2 separate regions of the Homo sapiens genome follow, and region 1 is linked to region 2. Evidence: fine-mapped expression QTL. A gene starts in region 2. The other region holds a variant in brackets. All regions are shown on one strand. Distances are between the middles of the regions.

Region 1 (4,413 bases), 120 kb after region 2:
ATATGGATATTTGAAGATGTCTCTATTAAGAATATTCCAATTGGCTGGGAACGGTGGCTCACGCCTGTAATCCCAGCACTTTGGGAGGCCAAAGTGGGCAGATCGCTTGAGGTCAGGAGTTCGAGACCAGCCTGGCCAACGTAGTGAAACCCCATCACTACTAAAAATACAAAAATTCACTGGGCATGGTGGCACGCACCTGTAATCCCAGCTACTCTGGAACCAGAGGCTGAGGCAGGAGAATCACTTGAACCCAGGAAGCAGAGGTTGCAGTGAGTCAAGATTGCATCACTGCACTCCAGCCTGGGTGACAGAGCAAAACTCCATCTCGGAAAAAAAAAAAAAAAAAAAAAGAATATTCCAATCAAGAAGCACACATGCACACAAATAACTTGTTAAAAAAAAAAAAACTATGAATTTTCCCAACTTGTTTACTCCTTGTTTGATTTTCTTACAAAGTAGAAATAAATATTTATACTTGAACAAATAAAATATTAACTTTAGATGCTTAATTATAGAGTCATTTTAATGGTAAGCACATATTAGGGCAAGATGATTTTATTTTATAAATATGTTTTATTGATAATGTGTACTAAGATAAAACTTTTCATGCTATTGCAAATACTACATTCTGTTTCTTAAAAATAATCCTTGGTAATTTTATTGGAAAATGTCTGTGTGTATGTGAAAATGTACGTATGTGTTTTTGTGTGTGATGTATAAAATAAATTATAAAATATTAATTACTTTATAAAATACAAACTACATCAAATTCATGTCTGCTGACTATCTAGAACCTTGAATTTTTTTTTTCCCCCGACGGAGTTTCACTTTTGTTGCCCAGGCTGGAGTACAGTGGCGCAATCTTGGCTCACTGCAGCCTCCGCCTCCCGGGTTCAAGTGATTCTCCTGCCTCAGCCTCCCTAGTAGCTGGGATTACAGGCATGCACCACCACACCTGACTGATTTTTTGTATTTTTAGTAGAGATGGGGTTTCACCATTTTGGTCAGGCTGGTCTCGAACTCCTGACCTCAGGGGATCCACCCGCCTCAGCCTCCCAAAGTGTTGGGATTACAGGCATGAGCCACCACGCCTGGCCAAACCTTGAATATTTTTAAAAAGAATATATATTGGAAATTGTTTCACGTAGAATGAATAAAATTTACTCCTGCCTTTTAATGGCTATATACTGTTCCATTGTAAAATTCTTCAGTGATTTGTTTAACCAATACCTATATATGTAGTATCAACTTTAGCACTGAAGACTTTTTATGATAACATTAATAAAAGTTTTTTCTGATATTTGTTTATAGTGAGAGGCAGTATTACAAAGTGGTTCTGAAGACATATTTTTAGGCAGAATACTTGATTTATGTTCTGCTACTGGTTATTTAAGACGTTTTAAAAATTAATTTTTTTGTTCTTCAGTTTTCTAATCTATAAAATGGAGAAAATCATATTACCTACTCACAGGGTTATTGTAATGAATAATAAGCAAGGTTAAAGGCCTTAGAGTAGTAGCAGGAACCTTATAGTAAACAATCAACAACATTAAATCTAGATCTGTGCCCACTGAATGTAAGTTTCCTTCTCATCAATGATTCTCTTTTGATCACTGCATTATGCCCACGGCCTAGAAAAGTTGACAGCACATAGAAAATATGATTGAGTAAAATTTGAACTCAAATATGATGTGTTTATACATACAGAAAAATGACTATATTTAATAATTTATGTAATAATTTTTAGATTATAAATAAATATTAAGTGGGCTTTACTACAGATGGAGAGAAGAAAGTATAATCCGATATAAAGATTTGGGAAGGGGAGAGAAGGAGAGATGGAGGGAAAGGGAGAAATCAAGGGCATACGAATGCCCAAATTTTCCTTTTCTAAATGCTTGACCCAATTAGAGTTGAGTTTGCACTATTGAGAGAATACTAATACTTGATTTTTGCTTAGTATCCCTACCTAGCATTTCAGTTCAATGGATTCCAGCCACTTGGTTAGGGTCTCTATCACTCTGCTCAGCTTTTTTCTGACATCTTTCCAGATAACAGTATATCCTGGATAGACTAGCTAAAGTCAAGTATGAATGATCTAACTCTTGGCTATTTTAAGATTAAAGTCTCTTCGTATGCATAGATTACCTGGGTTCACAAAATGTTTGTAAATTTTTTGGAAGTCAAGATCTAATCTTCATAAGGAATTGAATCTCCTTACAATATGCTTTTATGTTTATTTTATAAAACATATTTGCTAGTTTTTGACGGGCAGCTCAAATTACCATAATTACCAAGAGTATACAGAAACAGCTATTAACTCCTCTATACCTTGGTTAATGTCTTCATGAATCAGTCACTCTTAGAAAGAAA[G/A]CAAGGTCATGGGCAAACTAGGACAAATGTATTAACACAATAACTGAAGTACAGTTTTAGGCCATGATGCTATTCATAACGTGCATGCCAAGTTAGAGTGCTCCGTGGTAGAAATGACCTTTCATCCCCTTTATCAAGCATGTAATTTTCTAGTCATCTGAAGAGCTGCTTCTCCTGGTAGTTGTAAATTCTTTAATTACTATTTTAAACACTTATGTTGCATTCCAATGATTACTATGTGAATGATTTCAAATACTCTACCAGAATGTTAACTTATAATGAGGGTAAATGGGCAACTTGAATACTCTTTTAAGCTCAGACCTTGTCTGGAAGATTTTTGTAGAGATATGACACTTTCATCATCTAAAAAGTATTTACCTCTCCACTTGAGCATATTTTTCACGTATTTAAACCCTTTATAGTATAATTCATTAAAAAATCTAAAAGACTATCTGAAGGTAGAGAACACTAATAAATCATTTTTTCATTTAAATGTTATTGCATCCTTTTTGTTCTGATAATATTCTCTTTCTGAAAATGTATTTGTTTCAAAGATTTATTAAAAATTTGAGACCCTAATTATGTTAACTAGATTATATTTTATTTTATTGGTCATAGTTTGCAAGTGGAGTTGGTAAGTTAAAATGTTGAAAACATTAAAGATTTGGATAAGAATAGCTTTTATAATGAAGACTTAGGTTTTACTTTTCCAGTCTTTTCTTGCCTGTATAGATAATTGAATGAGTATTTAATATTAAAATCAATAGTAAATTGAACTTATAAAGAAATTTTGGCAATATTACTTATCTATGCCAAGCTTCGTGCTCTTGTTAACCACACCTTATAATTGACAGTTTACTACTTGAACGATTTTCATGGTCTGATCTCTCATAAATCCCAGCTAGTCTTAAACAGTCCTTATCATCAGTTCCAACAAAGCTCCTATTCAATCCCTGATAATATTGTATTTCTATTCTAACTTCAAAGAAATAGATGAAAATATCGGTTGCTACACTTGTGATTTTTGATATTTCAAGTTTTAAATTATTTTTCAAGATTTATTTTTGTTTGAGTTTCCCAAGTTAGAAATGCTTCATAGCTCATTTGCTAAAGATTAGTTTTTATAATGTATATTATGTAGAGACTTTAAATTTTATTTATATTCAGTATTGTCAGTAGGCTAACTTAGATGACAGTTACTTTTTCCTACCAAAAAGGGCATTATAGTAAGAATTCTGACAAAAATTATATGTAAGAATATATTTTATAGGTTCAGTAATTCAGTGTAAATCAAATAATCATTTTCATTATATGTATAGACATGGGTTATAACGTTTTTGTTTAAAAGGTCATCTGTCTTATTATAACTAACTTATTCTTTTTCTTGGTTTTCTTAACCTTAGATGTTTAAGTACTCAATTACTTTAGGCAGAAAACAGGTTTTAAATATAATCACTGTGTAAATATTTTTATATTAATTGCCACAAATGATATAAGTTGTTTCCCAAAATATCACTAATGACAACAAACAAAAAAAAAATCACAAAAATTCTACGTAAATATTGACAATATATATGATTCTGGGAAAATACTTCATGAAAATGCTATCTTAGCTCAAGAAGTCTTTGCTACCAATTATGATTGAAAATTGCCAATCTCAAGGATGAAATATTGAAACCCCAAAGCTGATCTGCACTTACAGCTTCCAATGTTTAAGTATAAATATCTTTGAATATATATATCTGAGGCTTTACAACTAGGGTGTAGTTGTAACCTAAATTCTTGAATACCTAAGATAATTGAGCAGGAGTTGGCAGAAGCAGGGACCTAACTGTCATATACTCCATAGGAGCAGGGTTTAATGCTTAAATGGTCATAGTGCTGCCGATGGCCTAGACTTCCTTTCTCCTTATTTGTCCACCTACTCCAAGGAATGAGTAAAGCCTTGGGAGAAGATCACTGGTGGTTGTATTAGTTTTCTAGGGCTGCCATAACAAAGTACCACAAGTGGAATTGCCTTAAGCAACAGAAATTTAA
Region 2 (4,413 bases):
TCTTGTTTTATTTTATGATGTAAGTGACTAATTTGGTCCCAAAGACTCTTTATTCCATTGCTAATGCCACATAGGGGAAACTGAGACTATAGATAGTTTTCTTAACAGTCATTTTTTGGCATCATCTATATATTTTCTATAGGATAAAGATAAAGGTAAAAGGACATAAAGAGTAGTTAAAAGAAATAAGTAAGGACATTGACAACTGGCAGATAAGCCAAAGCACATTTTGAGGAATCTAAACAACCCATTATTCTGGCATTTACTTCTAAATTGCTCCAACTTAATCTGAAGGATGAGATGTAAAACCAAAGACAGATCTTGGCATTCATAACATATATTCTCTTGTCAACACTTTAGAGGTGCATATTTTGTGTACTAATGAAATGATTGTAATGTCTCACATTGTCTCAGTTCTATAGTAGAGTTAGGACAGGCACTATGCAATCTTAAGTAGAATTTCAGCTATGTGAGAGTAGCCATGAATTTGCAATAAAAGGTGTAGGCACCACATTTACTTTTCCTATAATCCTACTATTAGATAACACATATAAGAGCTGCTATTTATTTTGTCATTTGTTTCCATCCTAGAAGAAAGCAAAAGAGAATTTTGAAGGTACAATGTATCACATTTAGAGCAACCTTTAGGTCTGTAGCTCATCAGACTGGCTTTTAAAATATGCAAGCATTCCAGGTTAAAAGTCTCTAAATAACTTCATGTCATTTTACTGTTAAATAATGTTTAGAGTTTGCTATCTTTTGTAGACCTTGGAAATCTAATTATTTATAATGTCCAGTGACATTTACATTTTGCTAAATATACTCTGCTTGTACAAGAACATCTCATGATTAGAAAAATGGGTAGAGAATGCCTGGCTGTACATATGCTTCTATATAATGCAAAAATATCAGGGTGACACATGTTATCTTTTTGTTATAGTTTCGTGATTTTAAAACATAATTCTCAAAAAGTTTTTAACTATTAGCATTTAAAATACAGAATAAGAAAAAGTTATCATAGTTGAGATCAGTGTTTACCATTTAACTCTCCACTATCAAATCAAATATCTATTCAAGTTTATTGGTATCTTAACATAATACCATTCATTTCCATGCCAACAGCTCCTGAGTGTTTGGCTTAGTTTTTGAGATTGATTGAAGGTAGATTGTAAAGTTGACCTATTGTGTTAAGCTTATTTACACAAACACAGTGCCTTGGAAAATCAACTCTGGAAGTCCATAGCAGTTGAATCCTAAGGTATTGCACATCCTAAGTTTTCTAATACCTGCTTTATAGAAATCCCTTGGGTGGTGAATCTCAACTTTGCCAGTTACCTTACCTGGGGGAAATTACTTCAACATTCCTAAATTTGAAGTAAAATTTAGGAATTGCTTTAGGACAAAGGATTTGCCTTTAATTTCATTTGACCAATTTGCTTAAGTAAATAATTTATCATTTCTATCAAATTTATGAGACAGTCACAGATGAACTTTTTTTTTTCAGGCTCTTGAAACACACTTTTCTTAAAAGAGTTTAAAAATAACATCCCTAAGATATAAGCAATAGAAAAAGACTTAATTTTGAAAAAAACCTTATGGCAACAGTGAAAAACAGAATTTGGATTCTGGATGGTTACAAATAGATTATTTTCAAAAGAAGTTGGATTTATTCAACTTAGGTCAATTTATCTTGGTAAGAATTTAAAAGCGCTTTCTGATGCCACATCCTTGTCTGTCACCTATTCTTAAATAATCAGTCTATGTCATCACCCCTCCCGAACTCCCCATTTCCCCCATCAAAATGTGGACTTCTCTCCTGCTGCTGAGTAACGTGGGGCTGGTTATGACTGGGAGGGAGGATGGGAGCGAGGCACGTGGACCAGAAATACTTCCTAGAAACAGCAAGTACGCTGCTCAACCCTGCCTGAACTTTCCTGTAAACAGCCACTGACAGACTGCATCCCTGCTGGGTGGATCCTGCGACTCCTAGAGGGAATGGCACTTCTTGTTTTTAATTAGCAAGGTGAAAGGTGAATTAAAACTAGCAGTTTGGCAAGTCAGTGCAAGAGGCTGACTTCTGAGAGGCTTCCAGGAGCCCGAAGAGAGGACCTCCACGGGAGAAGGGAGTGCGTGTGCTCGGTTTTGTTTTTTTCTCTCTTTTTTTTTTTTTTTTCTGAATGAACAGCTTTGCCCAAGTGACTGAAAAATACAGCTTCTTCCTGAATCTACCGGCGTAGTTGCTGAAGAGCGCTCTAGACAGGACATGGCTCTGAAGACTCACTCTTTGGAATGTCCTCTTGCTCCCGGCTTATAAACAACTGTCCCGAGGAAAGAAAGGTTTTACATAGCCAAATACAGCCTGACAAATGGCACTTCGGAACTGTGCTTTCTGATGACAACGCGTTCGATTTCTGACAAAGCCTCTCGCACGCTGCCCCTGGAGGGAAGTCCTAAGTAAAACTCAGACCCTCCTTAAAGTGAGGAGCGAGGGCTTGGACGGTGAACACGGCAGCATGGCATCCGCGGGGCACATTATCACCTTGCTCCTGTGGGGTTACTTACTGGAGCTTTGGACAGGAGGTCATACAGCTGATACTACCCACCCCCGGTTACGCCTGTCACATAAAGGTAGGTTACCTTTCCAGATCCTTTTGTTTAAAAAAAAAAAAAAAGAAAAAGAAAAAAGAAAAAAAAAGTCGTTTAACATTAACATAGGCTTATGGTCTTCAAAGACCTTTAAAATGCACCTGAAAAATTTATTGCAAAACTGACCTAAAATTCTAAGTACCTCTGATTAATGTGTCATACTCACCTCATCTGAAAACAGTGCAAAATCACATGTCAACTTAGAGATGTTATTTTTGTCTGTAAACATTGGATTTTATCAATAAGGAGTTCACTCACTAGCCCGCGGAACACAGGAAGGGAGGAAGCAGGTTGAAAATAGCCTTGAGAGGCTGAATCCACCAAGTTAACAGTAGATATTTAAATATCAGTTTATGCATATGAGAAACAAGGATGCTGGGAAAGGGCTATAGAAATAGGGGTGCAATTTGTTCTTTTTGTTTTTGTTTTGTTTTGTTTCCATAATGGAGGTAAGAGGAGAAAATAAAAATCCCGAGGAGAAAAATGATGCCCTACCCATAACTGTCATCATCATGTAATTAAAATGATTAACAACTAATATAAATTAGTTTTCCAGTTGAATTGATTATTAGAATTTTTTCATGTGTGGCAAAGGAAAATAGTTTATGACAATGCTTGTAAAATGGCTAATATGGATTAAAGTATTAGTATTCACTAGCATTTGTAGTGTAAATTTATATTGCCTTAATGAAGATCTAACAGCAAATGTTTAAATATTTCATTCTACAATTGTCTTGTAAAGCAACATCATACTCATAAATAAATGATTAAAAGATAGATTTTGCATCAGGACCAATACAAGCCAGTCATGAATAGGTTTGGTAATTCCTCCTGTAAACAAACAAATAATAAACAAAACCATGCTCAGAGAAAGTGACTTTGCTGACTTAATATAAATTCGGAATAAATTGTCAGCAAAGAAGTATTTATTATCACTAGCCATTGACACATTGAGACAGATAGCAGATGTAATACTCAGGATTACATAAGAATCATTTTTCAATTGTGTAAGCTTTTAAATTGTCCCCCACTGTAGAAAGAACAGAAGCTTGTATTTTCTAAGTACAGGTAGAATATTTATCAGGAGAAACAAAAAGGGAGTCCTCAATTTTATGTGACACGTTTGGCCTTTTTGTCTTTTTATTGGACAATCTTCAGTAAATGTTGACTATAGAAATTTTTTCATTTTTAGAATAGTGGATGTTTTCTTAGTTTAAATAGATTTCCTATAATACTATCCAGTAGATAATATAAATTTAAGAAATCCATTGATACTAAATTGGTAAAGTGTTTAAAATATAGTGCCCAGAATTAACACTAATCTTTTAACTTGGGAAGATGTATCATGGTATGTATCAAAATGCCTATTTCTAAGAAGTTTATCATCAAAGATGTCAACATGTACAAATTTGATGTGATGGAATATGGACAAATAAAAATGCAAAAAAATATAATTGATTGTTTTTCTTATGTAGACAAGTAGATAAGCTGCCAGTTTTTGCAAGCTACAATTCTGTTATATCTAGTATTAACATTTTATACCCTATTATTGGGGTACTTGTGTTTTCATGGTTCAATATCAGTGTGTTTTCCAACAGGTCACATTTTAATATTTCATAAGAGAGTTAATAATTTGATCAAAAAATACCAAAGTTCTCTGATACAAGTAAATGTTATGCATAATACTATTATCGAGTTCATCTTTATTATGTCACTTATATTCAAAGAAATAATTGTAACTGATGTTATGAGTGGTGTCATATGGTG

Evidence for each region. PIP is the estimated chance that this variant, and not a neighbour inherited with it, causes the effect. A credible set is the group of variants that fine-mapping cannot tell apart.
Region 1: its variant is the best candidate, but not a certain one, in a credible set for the expression of SEMA3E in lung (TOPMed, PIP 0.52).

Annotation. Positions count from the first base shown.
Region 1 is chr7:83,527,282-83,531,694 of GRCh38, reverse strand. The region is part of intron 1 of SEMA3E (semaphorin 3E); the gene reads left to right. Among named protein-coding and RNA genes, the nearest start is that of SEMA3E, 120 kb to the left of the region's middle. The variant G/A (reference allele first, on the strand shown) is at 2,377.
Region 2 is chr7:83,646,643-83,651,055 of GRCh38, reverse strand. It overlaps SEMA3E (semaphorin 3E), which reads left to right and starts at 1,917. Exons shown (of 17, transcript NM_012431.3): 1 at 1,917-2,628. The coding sequence starts at 2,514.